Homo sapiens: one gene and its partners. The protein of the gene in region 4 purifies or fractionates together with the protein of the main gene of each other region. This does not show direct contact. Each region holds a gene or a part of one and is shown on either strand. Other genes may lie near its edges.

Region 1 (3,500 bases), on a different chromosome or scaffold from region 4:
GCCTGGCCAGGATTAGAGAACTTACATTGTTTATTTCAAGACTTAGTATAAAGATACAACAGGCCGGGAGCGATGGCTCACACCTGTAATCCTACCAGTTTTGCAGGCCGAGGTGGGTGGATCACAAGGTCAGGAGATTGAGACCATCCTGGCCAACATGGTGAAACCCTGTCTCTACTAAAATACAAAAATTAGCTGGACATGGTGGTGCGTGCCTGTAATCCCAGCTACTCGGGAGGTTGAGGCAGGAGAATCGCTTGAGCCAGGGAGTCGGAGGTTGCATGAGCCGAGATCGCGCCACTGTACTCCAGCCTGGCAACAAAGCAAGACTCCCATCTCAACAAAAAAAGATACAACAATAAAGCAAGCATGATATTGGCTAAGGAAAGATATATATAGACCAACAAAACAAAAAGCCCAGAAAATAGACACACACACACACACACACATATGTCAGTTGCTTTAACAAAAGTGCCAAGAAAATTCAATTGAGGAAAAGTATAGTTTTTTTTTTTTCAACAAATGGTCTTGGAATGACTAGATATTCATTTGGAAAATACTGACGTTGACTCTTCTCTCACACCATTTATAAACATTAACTCGAAGTGATTAAAGACCTGATGGCAAATGATAAAGTGATACAACTTCTAGAAGAAAGCTGAAAATCTTCAAAACCTTTGGGTAGGCAGACTTTTTAGATAGGACAAACCAACCACAAACTATAAAAAAGATTGGGGCCGGGCACGGTGGCTCACACCTATAATCCCAGCACTTTGGGAGGCTGAGGCGAGTGGATCACTTGAGGTCAGGAGTTGGAGACCAGCCTGGCCAACATGGTACAATCCTGTCTCTACTAAAAATACAAAAATTAGCCAGGCATGGTGATGCGTGCCTGTAGTTCCAGCTACTCAGGAGGCTGAAGCAGGAGAATCGCTTGAACCCGGGAGGCAGAGATTGCAGTGAACTGAGATCACGCCACTGCACTCCAGCCTGGGCAACAGAAAGTGAGACTCTGTCTCAAAAAATAATAATAAATAAAAGTTACGGACTTGTTACACTTATAGATGCGTATTATACTTCAATTAAGTTCATTTAAAAAAGCAAAAGACAGTGAGGATTGGGATCTTAATGGTAACAGGGATGTCAATATCGATCTACGCATGAGGCTCAGTGGCTATCCGAGGAGAGTCAAATTATTATGTAGCTGTCCATGGTGAGAAGAAAACACTGGAATATTTTAGATGCTACAGCTTGTTAAATCTTCTGATACATTTTTAGTTTTTATTATTTTCATTGTGCAAATTTACGGGGTACATGAGAAAATTTGTTACACGTATATAAGGAATAGTGGTCAAGTCATAGTATTTAGGGGTTCATCAACCAAGTACAGTACATTTTTGTTAGATATAGTCATCCTACCCTGCTAGCAAACCCGGAACTTGTTCCTTTTATCTTTCTTACTGTATGTTTGCACCCTGTAACCCACTTCTCTTCATTCTCCTTCCTCCTCCTGCTCAACTTTCCCAATCTCTGTTACGTGTTTTTCTTTCTACCTCCATGTGTGTAAATCTTTTAGCTCCTGTGTATCAGTGAGAATATGCAATATTTGTCTTTTTGTGCCTAGCTTATTTCACTTAAAATAATGACCTCCAGTGATTTTCTGATAATTTTTATTATGATAACTGAAATCAGACTGGCATTTCCCTTTTCGTATTTTTTTTTTTTTTTTTTTTTTGAGAAAGGTCTCAATCTGTCACCTAGACTGGAGTACAGTGGTGTGATCTCAGCTCACTGCAACCTCTACCTCCCAGGCTCAAGCAATTCTCTTGTCTCAGGCTCCCGAGTAGCTGGGATTACAGGAATGCGCCACCACGCCTGGCTAACTTTTGTATTTTTAGAGATGGGGTTTCACCATGTTGGCCAGGCTGGTCTTGAACTCCTGACCTCAAATGATCCACCTGCCTCGGCCTCCCGAAGTGCTGGGATTACAGGCGTAAGTCACTGCACCCAGCATTCCTTTTCATTTTTTTATAGTACGCTATCCTGGACCATTTTGGATGCGAAAGGATAAGACTGAAAAATATCCGAGGGGGATAAAGAAATGTCCTGGCTATGGTCACTACTACCTACTTAATTATTCTGAGTCTGTCCAGCTTTCCACTGCTATTTGTTTTTTACAAGCCAGCATTAAAAAGTAGCCAGGTTACATTTACTATATTCTTTCTTTCTTTCTTTTTTTTTTTTTTTTTTGAGACGGAGTCCCGCTCTTTAGCCCAGGCCGGATTGCAGTGGCACAATCTTGGCTCACTGCAAGCTCCGCCTCCCAGGTTCACGCCATTCTCCTGCCTCAGCCTCCTGAGTAGCTGGGACTACAGGCGCCCGCCACTGCGCCCGGCTAATTTTTTGTATTTTTAGTAGAGACGGGGTTTCACCGTGTTAGCCAAGATGGTCTCGATCTCCTGACCTTGTGATCCGCCCGCCTCGGCCTCCCAAAGTGCTGGGATTACAGGCGTGAGCCACCGCGCCCAGCTAATTTTTGTATTTTTAGTAGATATGGGGTTTTGCCATGTTGGCTAGGCTGGTCTCGAATTCCTGACCTCAGGTGATCTGCCCACCTCGGCCTCCCAAAGTGCTAGGATAACAGAGGTGAGCCACTGTGCCCGGCTATATTTACTATATTTCTTCACATCATATGTCATAATCTTTAAACAGCAAAATGAATAATGTAAAAACCTAGAAAACTTTTTTTCCTAGACTACTATGTTATTGACAACTATTACTTTCCATAGTTGAGTAGCCCCATATAAGCCTCCTCTAGACATCACCTACCTCCAATGATAGCCGAGTTTCTGTTGACTCCATTTCTTATAGCTTGGCCTTGTCCTGGATTATATGGAAAATCCGCACTGGCTGTAGAGAAAGAAAGAGTCAAGTGTCAGAGTCAAGTATACTATTGATCCCAAATAATTTGATACCTATTTCTTCATGCAACTCTTCAACACTTCCTGTTTTCCCAAATGAAATCTCCATTTCAGATGGACCCGTCTTGCCATTGTCTCCCACAAGAATCACAACAGCCTCCATCCCTGTTCCTGCTGTTTCTCTTTGCACAAGGCCTAGGTAAACACGACTTCCCACTTGGAGCAATATTAGAGAATCCTAGAGCTACCTGAGCTGGCCTGCTCTAGTTCCACAGACAGACGAGTTTATGCATTTGAATATGTTTCTTACATTTGGTTGAAATCTGCTTCCCATCCACTTTTAACCCCATGCACAACTGGTGGCATTCAATGTATTTGTAGATGAGCTTTTTACAGCTACAGTATTAAAAAGTTTAAAAAGGAATCATTCCTTTAAACTTGTATTTTTCATGGCTGTAATAAGACACTGGCACACTTTAGGAATTTGTAAGGGGGTAATAATTCAAAACAGTTAAGAATATTAACTGCCTAGTGAATTTTCTATTTCTTTCCCTATTATAAACGTAAGAATCAGTTGTG
Region 2 (3,500 bases), on a different chromosome or scaffold from region 4:
AATAATATCTTTTAATTGAAAACATCCCAGTGATAATGCTTACTGCTTTGGCAATTATGAGCCTCCATTTGTTAGAAACACCATCCGAATGTCTTGGTGTCCTTGACAAAGGAACTATATAGAAGGGCTATACTAGCCATTGCTTGAACATAATAAACACGTTTTCTCTCGACATATTTCAGATTTGTCTTGTTTCTTGAGACTATTCTGCATTCATTCTGAACTCTTTTTTAGACCAAAGAGGTCTAAATACATGATGGATGAAAAGATAGGAAAGAGAAGGCAATCAGTCAGTTCTGTTAAGTTTTAAGTTTTTCATTGAAAATATTTTTGTGTGGTAGAAATACAGAATTGTCCTTTTCCATTACAACTTGTCTGATATTTGTAAATGCTTGTTTCTTTTAGGAATCACAGTGCATTGATAACAAGTGTAGTCCCTGGGGATTATGATGGAGATTCTCAAATGGATGTCCTTCTGACATATCTTCCCAAAAATTATGCCAAGAGTGAATTAGGAGCTGTTATCTTCTGGGGACAAAATCAAACATTAGGTGAATTTGTTTTAAAAATTTTTAATATTTATCATTGAATATGAAGGTAAATGTAACAAAATATTGTTCTGAAATCAGTTCAAAAATACTGTTCTTGGGTGTCAATAATTGTAAAACCTTTTTTCAAAGTTTATTTCCTGATTTTTCTTTTTCAACCCTGAACTGGGCAGGGATCACTTCTACTGACAAACTTCATTCTTACTAGCTTAAAGAGGACAGAGATTTATTAAAGGATTTTAGTGGCTCACAGAATCATTGAGATGGCTAAAGAATAAACTCTAGGTTGAGCTTTCAGGAGCAATCCCAATATCATCAAAAAAGCTACTGCCTCTTTCCCCTATCAGAAGTGGCTAGTTACACAACTGCTGCCAGAATGATGCTGTGCCTGCAGTGATTCTCACTAGCAAAATGAATGCTGCACCTGGTCTCTTGATACTCCCAAATTCAGTGAGCAGACACAGATAGAAATAGCAGAGAAACAGCCTTTACCTCATTCATGCCTTTAAGACTCACAGTGTATCTGATTGGCAAGGCTTAACTTTTATTCAGCATCTCAGATGCCACAATATCTGGAAAATGCTATTTTTGGTTTCTAGTCTCCTTAGCACAGGAAAGCACAAAAAAGTTGAAGTATGGTTCGAGAGTCAGTCTACCATACCTAGTCACAAATCATCAAGCCTTATCTGAAAAGCCAATTAGTTATACCTAAATAGGCAACTTTGTTCATGGAGCCAAATTTCAGTCATGTTTTCTGCACCATTTGGGAATGTAAACAGTAATCGCGATACATTATATTCATTAAGTCAATAAATATTTACAGAGGGAGTACCATGCACAAAGCTTGTATATAAGCATGTACATTTTAGAACCAGGAAGTTTTGCATATGTGGCCTTCTTTACACCAAAACCTTGTTAATTGTCAACCTCTCTAGCACTAAATTGTGTAAAGACAAAGACTCAGCTAGCAAATATTTAGATGCATACCTCAAAAGGAGGTTATTGTAATGCTAGTCTTCACTGTAGAATGTATTCTCCCAATATTTTGTCTTTGCAAGCTTGATGTTCATTTGAACTAGATTTATAGTATCTCATTAATGATAATAGTTGGAATAAATCAGAGATAAATCTAGAAAAGAGTAGAAGAATATTTTTTCCTAAGCATAGATATCAAAAGTAATATAAAATGCCTGCTAATTCATATATATATATATCTTTTTTGCAGATCCTAACAATATGACCATACTCAATAGGACTTTTCAAGATGAGCCACTAATTATGGAGTAAGTATGGGCTTGCTTCCTTTGAAACGATTTTAAACTTAAACATAAAATAAAATCTTCACATAGGAAACTACTTTGCTTAGTAATAAAAATACTAAATTCACTCAGAGGCCTGTACCTTTGATTATATTGTATTTATTTGCCATCAGATAGGACAAAGAAAAATGAAATTTATTATTTTGGAAAGTAGAAGAGATTTGTGTTTTTATTTCAGTCGCTTCAAATGTGTCCATTATGGATCTATGCTGTCATTACTGAAAGAATTAAGATACCTGTTTTTGAGTAAAACTGTTATATTTGATATTTAGGATACAGTTTCCTCTAGAAATTTAGAAAGATTCCTATATTAAGGAGAAATTTTTGTTCTTTTTATAATATAACTCCTGCTTTGTGTTATCATTTATATTCTCACTGTAGACTCATGTACCAGCATAATTGATTTAAATAATTGATGTAAATTTGGATTTGCAAATTTCTGACAGCGTATTTTGGTAGAGGTCGAGATCATTCCCGGGACTAGAGCAAAGTTTGGCCACATTCTTGTTTCCAGTACTGTCTTTCTTACAGTTATTAAAATCATACCCATACAGCAGTGTGTCAGTGGCCATTAGAAGTCTGAACTGTAAATCCATGGATTAATCTTCTTAACGGTGCCCCGCTAGATTTCTTTCATAGTTGTGTATTTTTTCATTGTTGTTAAAATATTCAATGGCCAGTATGAAGTTTTATACCAACTAGGATTATTTTTCTAGGTTATTTCTCCTAAGCCCATCTAAGTAAACAAGTTGGCTTAGGATTCTGAAGTAAGTTTCTAGGAATTAGTGCTGTATCCTTATCATTCAAGGGTAGTCTAGATAATGCAAAGATTACAGAGATACCCAAAATCTCACAAAACGAATTTATTTCTTGCTCTTACTATATGTCCAGTGTGGGTCAACAACAGGCTCTGCTCTGTGCTGTTGCTTAGAGTCAGGCCATCAGAGAGCCCACTGTCTTTGTAGCTAGTCCATCTGAATCACAATGCCTTCTCATTGCCATGGCAAGCCTGGAGAGGGCTGGAGGGGCTGGTAACAGAAATTATACACTTTGGCCTAAAAGTGACACATGTCACTTGTGCTGACATTTGACTTAATACTTATCACTAGATACTGGCGAGCATTGTAATGTCTACCACACTTCCCAAAAGTTACTGCTTCTTTTAAAGCTAAATTAGAAGTAAGAATTTAAAGAAATAGCTGCTTATTGTTTTAATTTTTTTTCAGTTTCAATGGTGATCTAATTCCTGATATTTTTGGTATCACAAATGAATCCAACCAGCCACAGATACTATTAGGAGGGTGAGTAAATATGGTTATAACTATGTAATTAATCGTATATATTGCTTCTACTTTAACCATTGGAGAAAAAATAGCTCATTGGAATCCTTGTTTTTAAAGATTTTTAAGTGGGCATTTGGTTAATATATATAAGCTTTCTCAAATAGTTTGGATTTGGCCTGCACCTGCTTTCCAAGGGCCAGCTTACTCCTTTTATCTCTTTGAAAAATTAGAGATTGAAACTTTACGGGTCCCCATTTAAATATTGGTTCATTAAATGTTTTTGAAATGGATAGATTTCACGTAAATAGGGAGGATACCTGCAGTCTTGAGTGGATCCTCCCTATCTTAGT
Region 3 (3,500 bases), on a different chromosome or scaffold from region 4:
AAAAAAAAAAAAAAAAAAAAGCAGAGTACTGTGGAGAGGAGGAAAGGAAACTTGGGATGCACAGGTGATTGTTAGCAGAGCTGTCAGGCTTTAGGCTTTTGGACGGTGACAGCTATTTCAGGGACAGTTGCAAACCAGCATGGTTAATGTACTTGCAACTGACCATGCACCAGGTGCCGTGGCTCACGCCTATAATCCCAGCACTTTGCGATGACGAGGCGGGTGGATCAACTGAGGTCAGGTGTTTGAGACCAGACTGGCCAACATGGTGAAACCCCGTCTCTATTAAAAATACACAAATTAGCTGGGCGTGGTGGCGGGCACCTGTAATCCCACCTACTCAGGAGGCTAAGGCAAGATCCCCCAGCTTGAACCCAGGAGGCAGAGGGTGCAGTGAGCCAAGATCGCACCACTGCACTCCAGCCTGGGCAACAGAGTGAGACTCTGTCTCAAAAAGAAACTGACCACGTTCCTCACCCGCCCATGGTATCTGTGCTGCAACCCAGCCACCAGTAGGGTGCCTTCTCCTCGGTAGCCAGATCATTCTCTGGCACGCCTTGGCACAGGCTCTCTGGAAGACTGAGGGTAGATTGTGTAATTCACAGAAGCAGCAGTCTGTGTGTGGTGGAAAAGGAGTTCCTTGTGTGGCAATGGTGTGGGCCCGACCAGTGATCATCGCGTCTGCCCCTCATTCACACCGGAGTTCTCACTTGAGCCAGCCACCATGCTTTTGCAGTATAAACACCTCCCAAAGATTCATTTCTTTTTTTTTTTTTTTTTTTGAGACAGGGTCTTACTCTATCACCCAGGCTGGAATGTAGTGGTGCGATCACAGCTCACTGCAGCCTCGACCTCCTGGGCTCAAGCGATCCTCCCGCCACGGCCTCCAGAGTTCCAGAGTAAAGCTGGGACTACAGGCGCATGCCATCATGCCCAGCTAATTTTTTTTTGAGACAGAGTCTCGCTCTGTCGCCCAGGCTGGAGTGCACTGGCGTGATCTCAGCTCACTACAAGCTTCACCTCCTGGGTTCACGACATTCTCCTGCCTCAGCCTCCCAAGTAGCTGGGACTACAGGCACCCGCCACCACACCCGGCTAATTTTTTTGTATTTTTAGTAGAGACAGGGTTTCACCGTGTTAGCCACGATGTTCTCAAGCTCCTGACCTTGTAATCCACCTGCCTTGGCCTCCCAAAGTGCTGGCACGCCTAGCTAATTTAAGATGCATTTCTGGTTGTGCTGCTGTGACCACTAACCAGAGATTAGAAACCAGCTAAGGAATCTTGGAGATTGCATGTCACCCAAGCTGGAAATTTCTTCCCAAGTAGTGGAACAGCCAGGGCAGAGGGAACAGACGCTACTGCAGACTCTGCTTCAGCCACTGAATCAAGGGAGAGAGTGGCAGCTCCGGCAGCCACGGGGCAGTGGAAGGACCCAGTCACGAGAGTTCCTGGCTGTGCCTGTGGCCTGGGTTAGCTGCTGTTCACAGTCAGACCAGCCTGGCTGGATGCTGACGTTGAGGGCTCCCATATTGGCAAACCAAGGGAGGCTGCGAAGGCCAGTCTCTTGTTTGCACCATGTCCCCAGAGGCCTTTGGTGACACCCCTGTTAAAGACTGCTGTGTCTCAGTAGAAAGAATTATATACTTGAAGCTTGGGGATCTAGAGTCAGCTTCTACCACTGGCACTTTCTATGGAGCCTTAGGCAAGTCACTTTGATCTCTTGGGTACTACAAGGGGTTTTGGGGCAATAAATAACCCAGAGAGCTTGCTCACATGCTGAGGGTGAGACCTCGTACAGGTGGGGGAGGGTGTTTTGAGACTTAGCTGAGAACGGGTGACACCCCACGTGAACATATTTATTGGACAGCAAGAAGCATATGGTCTCTGTGCTGGGTGGGAATGATACATATCAATGACACATTATCCCAGGCTGGCCTCTTCTTTTCTTTTCTTTTCTTGTTTTAAATACACAAGGTCTTGGCAGGGTGCGGTGGCTCACACCTGTAATCCCAGCCCTTTGGGAGGCGGGCGGATCGCTTGAGCCCAGGAGTTTGAGACCAGCCTGCGCAACATAGTGAGACCCCATCTCTACAAAAAAATATTAAAAATTAGCCAGGCATGGTAGTGCATGCTGGTAGTCCCAGCCACTCAAGGGACTGAGGTGGGAGAATCACCTGATCCCAGGAAGGCAAGGTTGCAGTGAGCTATGATTACACCACTACACTCCAGCCTGGGCAACAGAGTGAGAACCTGTCTCAAGAAAAAAAATAAATAAATACACAACGTCTTGCTCTGTCACCCAGGCTGGAGAGCAGTGGTGCAATCACGACTCACCGCAGCCTTGAACTCCTGGGCTCAAGCGATCCTCCTACCTCAGCAACATTGCAAAACCCCCACCTCCACAAAAAATTTTTTTTTAGTTTAGCTGGGTGCAGTGGTGCACACCTATAGTCCCAGCTACTCAGGAGGCCGAGGCAACAGGATTGCTTGAGCCTGAGAGGACAAGGCTGCCGTGAGCTCTCAGGGCACCACTGCACTCCAACCTGGGCAACAGAGTGAGACACCATCTCTCAAAATAAAAGAAAAAGAAAGGGGGCACAGACTCTGGAGTCAGACTGCCAAGGGCTGAGCCTCAGCTCTACCACTTACCAGCTCTGTAACCTTAAGTTACTTACCCTCTCTCTATGCCTTAGTTTCTTCATTTGTAAAATGTGGATAATTTACCTGCTCCATAGGGCAGTTGTGAAAGTGAAGGCACTTAGAAAAGTGCCTGGTAGTAAAGATGAAGGGAGGCTGGGCGCGGTGGCTCACACCTGTAATCCCAGCACTCTGGGAGGTCAAGGCGGGCAGATCACTTGAGGTCAGGAGTTCCAGACCAGCCTGGCCAACATGGCGAAACCCCCTCTCTACTAAAAATATAAAAGTTAGCCGGTCACGGTGGTGCATGCCTATAGTCCCGGCTATGCTGGAGGCTGAGACAGGAGAATTGCTTGAACCCAGGAGATGGAGGCTGCAGTGAGCTGAGATCACACTACTGCACTCCAGCCTGGGTGACAGAGCGAGACTCCATCTCAAAAAAAAAAAAAAAAACCAAGATGAAGGAAATGTGTGCACAGAGTTCCATCTTTGCAGTGTGTTACAGTGCTCAGTAGATTCAGAGACTCATTTAGATGAGAGATGGGACTAGGGGTGGTGTCTCACGCAATTAGCCAGACATGGTGACGGGTGCCTGTAATTCCAGCTACTCAGGAGGCTGAGGCAGGAGAATCGCTTGAACCCGGGAGGTGGAGGTTGCAGTGAGCTGAGATCGTGCCACTGCACTCCAGCCTGGATGACAGAGCGAGACTCCATCTGAAAGAAAAGATAGATGAGAGGTGGGTGGAGGGGTGTGAGTGAACGGCCGTCCTGATGAGATTGCTCCTTGCAGAGGAATGAAGGTGATAGAAAACCGGGCCATGAAGGATGAGGAGAAGATGGAGATTCAGGAGATGCAGCTCAA
Region 4 (3,940 bases):
CATCTGCTCTACTGATCAGTTTCAGATGGCATATGTTATTCAGTTGTGGTCTTTTAACAGTAGTTGCACTCCTCCAGTGTCTAATTCTTTGTCCTATGAATTCATGTTCCCCTGGGGTTTCACCTACTCTGTCTGATAAACATGCATCCAGGAAGGCCCAGTGAGTTTGCAGTGGGAGGGTGGTGTGAGCCCAGAAGGAAATCGCTGGCACCAGAGAACCACTGTCTATCATTCCCAGTTTCTCCCACTTACCCAGATCTTTCCTCCAGTCAGGTTTCTACCCTTAGGGAGAAGCAGCACCTAAAGGAAGCAATTAACCTAGCAACCCTAAGGGTGGCAGGGGGAAGGGTAGAGGCTTGATTGAGAGGAGGTGGGGGGAGGTCGGCCTGCAGTTTTTTTTGTTTTTCGTTTTTTAAATTCCTCACCCCAACAGTGCTTTTGCGCTGGTCTGACACTACCTGGAAAACTATGCCACCAGTCGCTTCAGTGGACACTACCATTTCAATTGCGAAGTCAGGCAATGATTGTCCTAAGGCAAGGTGGGAGAGAAGTCAGAGTAAACCACCTCGAGAGCGCCGGTCTCCCGGAGTGTCTGGGTTCGACTCCTGCCTCCACAACTTACTGGGTCTCCTCGAACAAGTTGCATCACCAATGGCCGTGCCTCAGTTTCCCTCCTCCGTAGATTAGGAATAACAATAGCAGTGAGAACAGAATCCAGCACACAGTAAATGCTGCTTACCTGTTTGCTATGTGGAATACGCCACTACACTGTTGCTCGGCCCTCAGGAAGGGTCTGCTGAGACTTTCTACTTCCTGCTCAGGGCAGAGGCCGACCACCCGCCCAAGGTCGTGGCGGCGCCGGCTCAGCTTTAGTCGTCAAAGTGCACATCCTGGGAGCCGCTGCCTCGAGGTGGTTGAGGCGAGAGGGCAGGGAAGCGTCTGAGCCTCTTCCTCCCACCAGAGCAGGACCCCAGCTGACAGCGGGTGAGCTGGGCAGAAACCCATGCCGGGAAGAGGCGGACCCAGTGGACCGCAGCGCCCGCAGTCGCCGGGCCAGGCGCAGAGGCGAACGGGAGGCGGCGCTGCACCGTGCCCGCCCCTCCCCGGCCCGGCCCCGGCTCCAGCCCCAGCCCCAGCCCCAGCCCCGGCCCCGGCCCCGGCTCGCGGGCGCTGCGTCTCCGCGTACAGGAGGCGGCGGCGGCTCCCAGTCACCGGCCCCCGCCGGCGAGCGCACGATGCACTGCCTGGGCGCCGAGTACCTGGTAAGCGCTCGCAGCCTCGGCCCTCGGGGGAGGAGCCCCGGGGAAGGGTCGAGTCCCCCGCCTTCACGCACCTTCCCTGCCGGACGCTTCCGCCTTTCCCGCGCCTCGGGGATCCCGCCCCCGCTTAGTACCTTGGGGCCACCTGGCGGGGAGGAACCTGGACCCTGCTCCAGTGCTGGGGCGGAGGCGGGGGAGACGCGGGCCGCGGGGCGCAAACTTGGGGTCGTCCTCAGGTGCACCTCCAGGTAAGCACTTGGCGGCAGGGGGCTTAACATCCGCTCCGCGCAGAGCAGGTGTTTCAAAGGCTGTGTGAAAGAGCTTCAGGTGGCCACGTAAAAAAATAATATTAATTTTAAAAATTTAGAAAAAGATTGGTTACTTTGGCCCCTCTTCGAGTAGATTTGGGTTCGGTTTCCAGGTTGAGTCCACCTGTTTATCTTCTTTTTCTCAACTCTCCCTTTTTCTGGAAGGTTTCTGCAGAAGGAGCCCCTAGGCAAAGGGAGTGGCGACCCCAGATTTATAGGAAATGCACAGATACGGCATGGTTATTCCTGTTCTTTCTCTTTTGGACTGGTTTGGTAAGTGTGGGTGCTTGGTAGGAAAGAGGCCAGAGTGTGTGTGCACGTCTGGAAATAACTCTGTCCCAAATGTAAATCGTAGTTGGTGCTGCAGTGAGAGACTTCTGCCGTTAACCCACAATAAACATCAGTTTGTACTCGGGAGAATTCTTGTCCTAGACTCGCTAGAAAGGCTGTCTTTTTGCTACAGGCCATGTTCTAAGGGGTGACTCCATTAGGAAATGGGAATTAACAGTTTGCAATGTGATTGCTATTTAGTAAGGCCAATGTGTCTCCTTTTACTCTCCGAACTTACTGAACAGAAGTTCTTTTAGCACCTGCCACACCCCCAAATCAAATATTCCTCAAGCTTTTGGTGCACCTTTAACAAAGGAAAAGCCAGGGTAAGCCTAGAAATAAACTGCATTTCCTTTAGCTGAACATCACACACACACGCGCGCGAGAGATATGTTGTGTTTAGCAGCCAACACTGTTAACCATAGCTAACAAGGAATGATTTTTCCCACTCTAATTTCGAGGTATGTATGATTGCTGGTAAACTCCATCAGGCTATGCGGTTATAATCCTGAGAGAGTCTGTTGGAAGCCGAATCTTGCTGCTTTTATACTTATTTTAGAATTGTAGGTAACAGCAGAAAACGTCTCACCCGACATTTTCAAAGGCCACTTTCACGAAATCATCCATGCCAGGATAAGGCATGCTATTTGCTGCATGGTAAATGATTAATTTATAGAGCAGGGTAATAACTACCAGATAGTAATTACCTTTGTTGAAAAGAATTCCATCTGAATAGGCCCTAAAATATCATGTTTGTTCTTTCCAAGTAAGAAAGGCATTTGTTCACTTATGACCCGTTTCACATAGACAGGCTTGGTTACAGGCACAGTGGAAGGTTAGGTCTGAAACACATAATCAGATGTTTTTTGTTGCTTACGTTGGAACTCTCCCCTAGGAGCTGGGAGAGACAGTGCACCTACAATACCTTCTGCTTAACTTCGCAGATGGTTGGTGTTTTTATCTGAGACTGCTGTTGTATAAATGCAGGGAGCAGCTGGCCTGCCTTGTGCCTGGCAGCTTTGACCTCAAGCTGTTATTGTGATTTAATGATCTGCCGTAGCCCCTCCACAGCTTCAACCTAGGACCTCACTACCAAACTCTCAGCCCAACAGCTGAGAATCCTGGGGAAAATCTTTGTAGATGACCTATCACAGCCTGAAGAATTGTGAACCAGCTGAGAGGTGGCACGGAGCTGGAAACTGCTTTAAAATTACATTTCATTTGCAAAATAAGTCTGAAGTTTTAATATATCCAAGTTCTCACTATGGCATTCTGTTTTAAGAGTCAGAGTCCTTTCTTAGCTCACTGGCTTTTAGTGTCTTTTGCAACATTTTTTATTTGCAGGTATTTAAAACAGAGCAAGGAGTGTTTTGTTTTTGGACTTTTTTTTCTGCCTCTGTTGTTCAGCTTTCAGGTCTTGTGACAGATGTCCTGACTGGTGATGGTGTGCCCTGAGTTAGGGCTGGACAAAGGCTTGGGGGAAGGAGCTGAAATTATAAGCAGAGATGGTTCTTGCAAATGCAGCACCAGCCTGTGTTTATATTTGCATTAAACATAAGGAACAAAGTCTCAAAGTCTGGACTATCTCTGCCTCTACTTACCCCTCCAGTATCCTCTCCTGCCCTGCCTTTTCCTATCATCCCTCAAGATTCCATTTTCCTGATTTTGCAGGCACGGTTGACAGTGACTACCTTGGTGGCCAATGTACTAGACCAATGTACACACCTCCTATATCACCTGTCATATAGAATCGCAATTGCATGTTTGAAATTAGGACAATGAAGGTTTATAGTAGTAGTTTCTTGGAAGGCCGAGGCAGGAAGATCCCTTGAAGCCAGGAGTTCAAGACCAGCCTGGGCAATAAAGCAAGACCCTGTGTCTACAAAACATAAAAAATAATAATCATAAAGTCATAGTTTTATTAGGAGGGACTCAGGAATCCTCAGAAACCACTCCCACCTCTCCCACCCAGAAAAACTTTCCATTCTTCACCACAGGCTTTCCAAAGGAAAGAATGATGGTAAATGGAAAACATCACTTTGT
Region 5 (3,500 bases), on a different chromosome or scaffold from region 4:
CTAGTAGATGAAGCTACAGAGGTAGGCAGAAACCGTATTATATAAAGCTTAGAAGTTATCCACAGACAAGAGGGAACCACAGAAAGATTTAAATAAGCAAAATTTACATGTCAGGATAATTACTCTGATGAGATAAGGACACATGCAACATGGATTGATCGGAGAGACTATTGTAGTCATACAGAAAGGGCTGGAACCAGAGCTGTAATTAGTAGGGAAGAAGAAGATGGGATGAATTTGAGAAATACTGAGGAAACAGAATCAGCAGACTGGTAATTCAATGGCTGTAGGAGGTAAGGCAGAAGGATGAATCACAGAGGAAAGGCCATGTGAGGACACAGCAAGAAGGCAGCTGTCTGTAAGCCAGGAAGAGAGCCCTCACCAGACACTGAATCTGCTAGCACCTTGATCTTGGACTTCCCAGGCTCTAGAGCTGTGAGAAATAAACTTCTGTTATTTAAGCCACCAGTCTGTGGTATTTTGTTATGGCAGCCTGTTTTAGTCTGCTCAGACTGCAAAAGCCAACCTCTTGCTATGTCATCACCAGACCTGTCCTCTGTGTGAAGGAGAGGGAGGGAGCAAGTGCAAGCTAACTGAATCTTCTTATAAGGACACTAATCCTATCAGATCAGCACTCTACCTTTATGACCTCACTTAACCTTAATTACTTCCTTAGAGGTCCCATCTCCAAATACAGCCATGTGTAGGGGGGTAGGGCTTCAACATATGAATTTGACAAACATTCAGTCCATAACAGCTGCCAATGCTGAGGAGTTAAATGTAATTTACTACCCTAAGTATTTTCTCTGGACGCTCCACTTTTCCTAGCTCATAGGGAGAAATTAATCTGATAGCTAAAGATTTTATAGCTAAATAGTTCTGTAGTATAAAATTAGTTGGATTGTCAGCACGGCCTTCCAAGGAGAAATTTAAGATTTATGTTGCTGTACTTTCTCAACAATTCCTGAAAGTTTTTCAAAACAAAAAGCATTAGGAGCTAGACACAGTGGCTCACATCTGTAATCCCAGCTACTTGAGAGTGGGCCAGTGGCCTAGTGAGACTAGGAGTTTGAGACTGGCCTGGGTGACACAGTGACACTCCCCTAGCTCTAAAAAAGTTTTTTAAAACTTAGCAGATTATTTGAAGTGAGTTGGTGGAAGGGGGGTAAAAAAACACAAAAACCCTTAGCTGGGCATGGTGGTGTGCGCCTGTAGTCCTAGCTACTCAGAAGGCTGAGGCAGGAGGACTGCTTGTGCCTGGGAGTTCAAGGCTGCAGTGAGCCATGATCATGCCACTGCACTCCAGCCTGGGTGACAAAGCAAGACCCTGACACTTTAAAAAAAAAAAAGTAATAATAAACAACTGAAACTGAAATCCTTCGTAATTTTGCAGGTTACTAGTTCTGAAATAAAGTGTCTAGAATCACAAACATGGAAAGGTCATGTTTTAAATTATTTTTTCCTAAGAGCCACTTATGAAGTGAGTTTAGTTTAGACTGTATTTTTTTTTTCTGACACAGGGTCTCACTCTGTTGCCCAGGTTGGAGTGCAGTGGCACACTCACAGCTCACTGCAGCCTCGACCTCCACCGTTCAAGCAATCCTCCCCGCCTCAGTCTCCTGAGTAGCTGGGACTACAAGTGCACACCACCATGCACAACTAATTTTTGTATTTTCTGTAGAGATGGGGTTTCGCCATGTTGTCCAGGCTGGTCTCGAACTCCTGGACTCAAGCGATCCACCCACCTCAGCCTCCCAAAGTGCTGGAATTACAGGCATGCGCCACCGTGTCTGGCCTAGACTATTTCTTACTACAATCCTTAAAAGGTAATGGATATACTTTAAAAAATCAAGGAAAGTGGCCAGGCGTGGTGGCTCACGCCTGTAATCCCAGCACATTGGGAGGCCGAGGCGGGTGGATCACCTGAGGTCAGGAGTTCCAGACCAGCCTGGCCAACATGGTGAAACCCCGTCTCTACTAAAAATACAAAACTTAGCTGGGCATGGTGGTGGGCGCCTGTAATTCCAGCTACTTGGGAGGCTGAGGCAGGAGAATCGCTTGAACCCAGGAGGCAGAGTTGCAGTGAGCCGAGATCGCACCACTGCACTGCAGCGTGGAAGACAAGAGCCAAATTCTGTCTCAAAAAAAAAAAAAAAAATCAAAGAAAAATTTCAAGAGTTGTAATTCGTCTGATATCAATTTAATGTCCTACAGCTATTAAACCAAGTTAAGCATTATTTTCCTAACAGAAAACAAAAATGAACATCTTATTATCTTACTAAGCGGCAATACAAATTTTTCATTAAAATTCATCTCCACAGTTAAATTTCCATAATGATAATGTGAGATAAAATAATGGGATTTGTTAATTCCAATGAAAATCCAGTCTGAATAGAAGTAAAAAGATTCAGGAGTATAAGAAGCACTATATATGTACCAGGCACCATACTAAGTGCTCTATAATCATTCACTCAATCCATAAAAACCCCATAAGGGTTGTGTACTATAATTATCTCTGTTTTATACTTGAGAAAATTGAGGCACACAGAGACTATATAACTTGTCCAAGGACACACTGTGAGTCCATATATATATATATATATATATATATATGTATATACACATATATGAGTCCATATATATGTATATACGCATATATATGCGTGTATATATATACACACACATATATACACATATATACACACATATATACACATATACACATATATGTGTGTATATATATACACACACACATGTGTGTATGTACACACACACATGTGTGTATATACACACACACATATGTGTGTATATACACACACACATATATGTGTGTATATATACACACACACATATATATAGTGTGATCGATATAGATATATATATGTAAAGAGAGATATGCCTGTTTATGAACTCTCTATTCCATTGATTTGTGCATCTAGTAAGCAATTGTTTTGTATATGTATGTATATATATACACACATATATATGGTGTATGTGTATATACATACATACATACATACATATACATATAGTGCAGTGAACCGAGATCGCGCCACTGTACTCCAACCTGGCGACACAGCAAGACTCCGTCTCAGAAAAAGAAAAAAAATTCCTAGATGTGAAACCAAAAACACAATCCACAAAAGAAAAAGTGAGTGGAAATTGGACTTTTACTCAAATTGAAAATGTTTGCTCTTCAAAAGACACTCTTAAGAGAAGGCAAGTTATTAACTGGGAAAAAAGTATTTGCAAAACATATATATAACAGGGGACTTGTATCCAGGACATATAAAGAGCTCTGAAAAACTCAATAATAAGAAAACAAATAACCCAATAAAAAAATGGGCAAATGATTTGAATAAACATTTTACCAAAGATATATGGATGGCAAATAAGTACATGAAAAATGCTCAACATTTAGGTAAATACAAGTCATTTGGGAAATGCAAGTTAAACTACAATGAAACATCACTACACACCTATTAGAATGGCTAAACATT
Region 6 (2,739 bases), on a different chromosome or scaffold from region 4:
TTTATTACCTTCACACACAAACACCCTTCCACACTCCAAAAGTCTAGAATTCAATTATTTTATACTTACAAACAGTATGTGCAAATTTTCTGAAAAGTTTCTATTCTAGAGGCAAAGCAAAATGAAAAAGAATGTACATTATATCTGAAAATGCTTCAATGATTGCTCTTGTTTATAATGAAAATGTTTTTCTTCTAAAATTACATTTTGTACAATGAAGTGTAATACTCTTCCCTTTCTTTTCAATCCCGTGTAGACTTTAAAACAAATAGAGTATCCTTAGAATCAAGCCATAATTCTAATGACATTTGAAAGATACATTCATTTTCTTTACAGCATGAAAGACACACAAATAACATTTTATCTCCTTTAAACAATGAAATTAAAGAAGTTAACAGTTTCAACCTTCTGTCCATAGAAAAATATTTTCTATATCCTTTACACAACAAAGGTAGGAAACTCTACAGTGTTTAAATGAAACTTTTATGAGCTTAACAAGGCTTTCAAACATTTTCATTCTTGCACTGAAAAGTTTAAAAGGTTTCAGGAAGTTAAACCTTTGAACTTTCCCCTAAAATGGTAATCTTTAACTAGCAATATTGCTACTACCTTTTGCTTAGTAAAATTTTTTTAAACTGGTTTACTTATGTATATGCACTGAACCAATGCTGATGGATTGCACCCTAGCAGATATTACTTCTGGTTGCCCATTTAGCTTGGATTACTAAAATAAAAATTATGATTATAACTTCAGAAATCAATAGCATACTACAGTAGAAAAACATACAAATAAATAGCAGCAAATTTATATGCAAACAGAAATAACTATGTGGTGTCTACTCACAACAAATTCATCAGGACTATAAAAAAATATCTAACTTCTGGCAGAAACAGAGATTGCTGTTTGTTTTTTATAACATTGTAAGACACACTGTAGTAATTGCTGAGTATCAATGAAGTCTATATAATGGTTGCAGACACGGTAAGTTGAACAAAAAACATACAAATTAGGGATTAATTTACTGGGTTCTTAATAAAATTGCTGAAATTATTATCAATTAGCCCTCAAAAATGTTTTAGGATTATGTAATTTCCATTTTATCTACATAATTCTCTAAGAGTTTTATAAAATGGTTGCTACAACTTGTATTGTGATCACACTGAGACACCAATAAATCTCTGCCAAGAGATCAGTAAGTCTGATATTTGATAAAATTAATCCAGTAGGTTTTAATAACATAGTTATTTCACTTGGAGGAAGCACCACAAAAAGAATGATTCCAGCAATTGTAGTCAGATAGGTGAAGCAAATGGGGGAAGTAAGCAATGTTAATACAAAGTATTAACTGTGGCAGCTCACATAATGCACCAGCTTTCATCAAAGCAGGCTGTTGCATAATTTATCTATGTCCTATTACATTGAGATTTTTATTCCAACAAATATTTAATATACTTTATTTACTATAAGTGACTGAAATGCAAATTCATCTGAACTATAAAGTAACTACCACAAAATAAAAGAGCCTGTAAACATATCCCACATTATTGTGGTATAAACAATTTTTATGAATTCAAAATTACTTTGGCAACCTTACCATCAGAGTATTTTAAATGTTCAAAATACAGATATTAAATAGCACATTGTTATAAACTAATGTTTCCTTCTCTCTTCCTGATATTATAAAACAAGTAATGCTTTATTTACTTATCTTACATGTTCACATTATGAACACAAATTATTTCATTATAAATGGACATATATTCTAAATCTTAGTTCTATGTTTTGAGTGCTTTTAAAAAATTAGTCTTCTAACTGCAGTCTATAATGTTTTCATACTGCATGTGTTATCAGTCTAAATACTTTACAAAAGCTTATGTTCTGTCAGGCAGGCATGACTAGCAAACTGAGTGGGGGTCCTAATTAGAATCACTTCTTAAGCCTGCTTATTTTCTAACTTAAGTGACATCCTTTAAGGTTGTCATAGTTATTAAGTGAAAACATTGGCTGAGTATGCTTCTCTACTGGAAATAGACAAAAATTCACAAGAATTTATGATATTCACATAGGTTATAATTTATTGAAGTTCCAGTATAATATAGGAATACTAGATAGATAATTAGAAAGCAGATCATATAAGACCAGACTGCTAAATCAATAACCATTGCTGAACCCTATTTCCTAATGCCGATAAAAATGGGCTAAGTGAAGACTGGATAACATTTTTCAAGTTCCTTTCAGCTCTCAAGCTGCAGTACTTCTAGTGGAGATAGAAGACAGGAGACTTTTCCTTAAATACTCTAGACCTGATCAGACCCTGCCAGCAGATGATAACCCAGAAGTTAAAATAATCATTTTCCTCTGTGGGCATTAGCCTTTGTGAAATATACATATAAATAAACACACAAAAGTAGCTCTATGTGTGTGTACACATATTTGAAACCTTCCAGCAATTGTCTTAATGTCTTAACATACCTTTGCACAACTGAAGTCAGATTTCATGTAATAAATGTTCCCTTTACTCTTGATTAAAATCATCAACCACTCCCCTCTCACCTCTTTCTCCTAGCAGACTGTAGAAAGGAAATCATTTCTTAGGCTGTTTACTCTGCCTCTATTTTGAATGGATGCATTGGTTTAACAAATACTATCAATTTTCTGGTGAATGTAAAGTCTATTCCAAATACTCCTCATCATATTTACATGGTGCTGACACAAATCAGATGCTCAATAAAACACCT
Region 7 (3,500 bases), about 79 Mb from region 4:
GGTTTGTTTTTGCTGCGAGTGATTGGGGGTGAAGCACACAATGATGGTAGGTGGCCTGGTGCCCTGCCTGGATTCATGCACTGGCACTGGCAGCTTCACCCACTACTGCTTTGGTACTATCAGTGTAAATGTCAACACAGTGAAAAAGGCAAATCGTGTCTTGATATGATCTCACAGACTTTCTCTTGAAGGATCTTTGAGAATCCCCAGGAGTCTATCAACCACATTCTGAAAACTGCTGTCCTAGAGAACTCTGTACTTAGGTTATGATATTCATTGCAACACTATTCCTCAAAGCCCCCAATGTCCACCAACGGAAGAATGATTCAATAAATTATAATGGCCATAAATACCATATAGCAATGACAACAAATTACCTAGAGCAACAGGAAACCACTGGTGCTACTAGTGATCATTAAGCCACCTGCTGTTGTGAAAACTGAGTTTGTTAAGCATACACTTGATATCCACAAAGAGCAAGCTGGTAAAGCAGCCATTCTACCAATAATTTTGTAAATGTATTTGATTTACAATTTTCCCCAGTGGGATAAATAAATATAATTCTCAGAACTATAAACTGTTCCGAAAGACCAATTTAGGAAATCCTCATCCATTTACCCTGGATTGAGATTATCTTCTCTTTTCTATTCGGACACTGGTATTTGTTTTCTTCCTGACTTGCAGCACCTTCTCGTCTCCATCAGGCACCCCCTTGTCTTGTGTGCCGGTGGCTGTTCTGAGTTTTGTCCTTGGCCTCCTTGGCCTTACTTTACATACAGCAGTCATCCCCTAACTGCAGAGGATACGTTCCAAGACCCCCAGTAGGTGCCTGAAACCACATAGTACTGAACTCTATACAAACTATGTTTTTTTCCTATACACATACCTATGATAAAGTTTATCAATTAGGCACAGCAAGAGATTAACAACAACAATATTTAAATAGAACAATTCTAACAATATACTGTAATAAAGTGATGTGAACATGGTCCCCCTCGCTCAAAACATCTTTTTTTTTTTTTTTTTTTTTGAGACGGAGTCTTGCTCTGTCGCCCAGGCTGGAGTGCAGTGGGCGGCGTGATCTCAGCTCACTGCAAGCTCCGCCTCCTGGGTTCACGCCATTCTCCTGCCCCAGCCTCCCGAGTAGCTGGGACTACAGGGGCCCACCACCACGCCCGGCTAATTTTTTGTATTTTTAGTAGAGACGGGGTTTCACCACGTTGGCCAGGATGGTCTCAATCTCCTGACCTCGTGATCTGCCCGCCTCGGCCTCCCAAAGTGCTGGGATTACAGGCGTGAGCCACCACGCCCGGCTTCAAAATATCTTCTTGCACTGTAGTCACCTATGTTTTGGACCTGGTTGACTGTGGGTAACTGAAACCTCAGAAACTGAAAAAGGGGTAAGTGGGGTGGATCAGGGGAGACTACGGTATTATGCCGGGAAGATCTTACCCTACTCAGGACTTCAACCACTAACCATTTACTGATGATACACCAGTTTCTATCCCCAGCCTGTATGCTTTTCTTAAGATCTCGATTCCTATACCCAACTGTAGAAAGGACTTCTCCCCTTCTATTTCCTACAGGCAGCTCTAATTCAGTATGTCCACAGCCAAAGTTCTTATCTTTCTAAACCTGCTCTTCTTTCTTTACGGTCCACTTTCCCATCTGGTTTCCATGGTTTCAGGTACCCTTCTGTGTTCACAGGACACCTGAGCTGCCATTAGAGTGGACTGCCTCTAGCAAGATAGTACTTGTTTCTCTATACCCTCAACAGTACTATTTTAACTTAGAAAATCTTTGACAGTTGGATGGGTGAAAAAAGGTTAATGTTCTCTGATTACTTGTGAGATTTAATTTTTAAAAATGGTTATTAGTCTTCTCAGAATTTTATGATTTTCTTGATTAAAAGCTCTTTAGAAATTAAAAATATCAACATTTTAATATTTGTTATAAATATTCCCCCAGTTTTTTAACTTTACATTTTAAAGTATTTACATAAAAACATAAAATTTAGAGTCAAGTTATCAAGATTTTCCAAGATTTTTCCCCAATGCTTTTTAACCCTTTCCTACCTTAAGATCAGATAAATATTCATCTGTACATTCTCTCAGTTAGTTTGTGGCTTCTTCTTATTCCTTTTTATTACTGTTTTACATTTAACTTTTAAATTCATTTTGGAAAAAGATTGTTGGTTTTCCAACAGGAGCCCTTTAAAGGTGCTAAAATTTTTAAACGTTTTAAATTAAAAATTTTAAAGCAAACGGTACCAAGTTAGATAAAAAAATTCATTAAAAAATTTTGTGCATCTGAAGGAAGATCCTTTCCTTCAGCCACTTTGTTCAATTTTGCTGTTTATTTACATAAAATCTTGGGATAAAATGTGAAGAAAATCTTAACCAAGGTGACCCTCACGTACCTGGATAACATCGGCAGGCCTGTTTATATGTTCTTTAAAGACCAAGAGGGTAGGGGCGTAGATATTGATGTTGTACCGCCTTGTCATCTCTTCCGTCCCTCTCAAACCCACATATACATATCCAAATGATAAATAATCTTTGTATGCAAAGGCAGTCAACTGTTAGGGCATAATAGAGAGGAAGAAAATAAAACTACAGCAAAGATGTAAATGACAAATCAAGTAGGGCTTTTTCACATCACTGAGCAGAGAGGTACATGCCAGCTTACACAGCTCCACTAGGTCTTCCGTATCCTTGTATACTTCCATTCTATGGTGTTCCATGTGCAAAAACTGTACCAACAAAGTAAATACAAACAACTCTCTTCTTTTTCATAGCTAAAGCAAAATAACGATCTTCTTGAAATCTGTACTGGTCAGGAGGCATGAGTTTGGGGATTACCTGTACCGTAATTAGGTAAGATGGCAGTGACCATGCCACTGATAACACCTTCCTCTCCGTCTCATGTCACAGTGACATGAGAGGTAGTGGGGAGTGTAGGTAGGCTGGGAGTGTAGTGGGGGAATCATTCACAGGGCAGGTCTGAAGTCAGTGGGAATCGCGCTCACCATGCTGTAGTGAGAACTTGGGTGGGTTATATGACTGCTCTAAGCCTCAGTATCTTGCTCTATGCAAACAGGGATAGTGGCCAGGCGTGGTGGCTCATGCCTTTAATCCCAGCACTTTGGGAGGCCGAGGTGGGCGGATCACTTGAGGTCAGGAGTGCAAGACCAGCCTGGCCAACATGGTGAAACCCCATCTCCACTAAAACACAAAAATTAGCCGAGCGTGGTGGTGTGTGCCTGCAGTCCCAGCTACTCTGGAGGCAGAGGTGAAAGAATTGCTTGAACCCGGTAGGCGGAGGTTGCAGTGAGTCTAGATCACACCACTGCACTCCAGCATGGGCAACAGAGTGAGACTTGGTCTCCGAAAAAAAAAAAAAAGCCCATCACAGTGGCTCATGCCTGTAATCCCAGCAATTTGGGAGGCTGAGGCAGGTGGGTCACAAGGTCAGGAGTTCGAGAGCAGCCTGGCCAACAT

What was found.
Region 1: the proteins of SLC44A3 (region 4) and CNTNAP2 purify together in Homo sapiens (affinity purification with mass spectrometry; one large-scale study listed by BioGRID and IntAct). This does not show direct contact.
Region 2: the proteins of SLC44A3 (region 4) and ITFG1 purify together in Homo sapiens (affinity purification with mass spectrometry; one large-scale study listed by BioGRID and IntAct). This does not show direct contact.
Region 3: the proteins of SLC44A3 (region 4) and TPM4 purify together in Homo sapiens (affinity purification with mass spectrometry; one large-scale study listed by BioGRID and IntAct). This does not show direct contact.
Region 5: the proteins of SLC44A3 (region 4) and RP2 purify together in Homo sapiens (affinity purification with mass spectrometry; one large-scale study listed by BioGRID and IntAct). This does not show direct contact.
Region 6: the proteins of SLC44A3 (region 4) and PTPN4 purify together in Homo sapiens (affinity purification with mass spectrometry; one large-scale study listed by BioGRID and IntAct). This does not show direct contact.
Region 7: the proteins of SLC44A3 (region 4) and DNAJC16 purify together in Homo sapiens (affinity purification with mass spectrometry; one large-scale study listed by BioGRID and IntAct). This does not show direct contact.

The regions. Positions count from the first base shown.
Region 1 is NC_000007.14:148,408,801-148,412,300, reverse strand, and holds part of CNTNAP2 (contactin-associated protein-like 2 precursor), read right to left. Parts: intron 2,911-3,500; coding exon 2,830-2,910; intron 1-2,829. UniProt on the Homo sapiens protein: Required for gap junction formation. Required, with CNTNAP1, for radial and longitudinal organization of myelinated axons.
Region 2 is NC_000016.10:47,451,064-47,454,563, reverse strand, and holds part of ITFG1 (T-cell immunomodulatory protein isoform 1 precursor), read left to right. Parts: intron 1-405; coding exon 406-551; intron 552-1,773; coding exon 1,774-1,831; intron 1,832-3,093; coding exon 3,094-3,168; intron 3,169-3,500. UniProt on the Homo sapiens protein: Modulator of T-cell function. Has a protective effect in graft versus host disease model.
Region 3 is NC_000019.10:16,082,995-16,086,494, forward strand, and holds part of TPM4 (tropomyosin alpha-4 chain), read left to right. Parts: intron 1-3,428; coding exon 3,429-3,500. UniProt on the Homo sapiens protein: Binds to actin filaments in muscle and non-muscle cells. Plays a central role, in association with the troponin complex, in the calcium dependent regulation of vertebrate striated muscle contraction.
Region 4 is NC_000001.11:94,819,217-94,823,156, forward strand, and holds the start of SLC44A3 (choline transporter-like protein 3), read left to right. Parts: upstream 1-1,140; 5' UTR 1,141-1,235; coding exon 1,236-1,262; intron 1,263-1,384; exon of another isoform or gene 1,385-1,507; intron 1,508-1,732; coding exon 1,733-1,840; intron 1,841-3,940.
Region 5 is NC_000023.11:46,847,043-46,850,542, reverse strand, and holds part of RP2 (protein XRP2), read right to left. Parts: intron 1-3,500. UniProt on the Homo sapiens protein: Acts as a GTPase-activating protein (GAP) involved in trafficking between the Golgi and the ciliary membrane.
Region 6 is NC_000002.12:119,979,922-119,982,660, reverse strand, and holds part of PTPN4 (tyrosine-protein phosphatase non-receptor type 4), read right to left. Parts: 3' UTR 1-2,739. UniProt on the Homo sapiens protein: Phosphatase that plays a role in immunity, learning, synaptic plasticity or cell homeostasis. Regulates neuronal cell homeostasis by protecting neurons against apoptosis.
Region 7 is NC_000001.11:15,547,348-15,550,847, reverse strand, and holds part of DNAJC16 (dnaJ homolog subfamily C member 16 isoform 1 precursor), read right to left. Parts: intron 2,579-3,500; coding exon 2,420-2,578; intron 1-2,419. UniProt on the Homo sapiens protein: Plays an important role in regulating the size of autophagosomes during the formation process.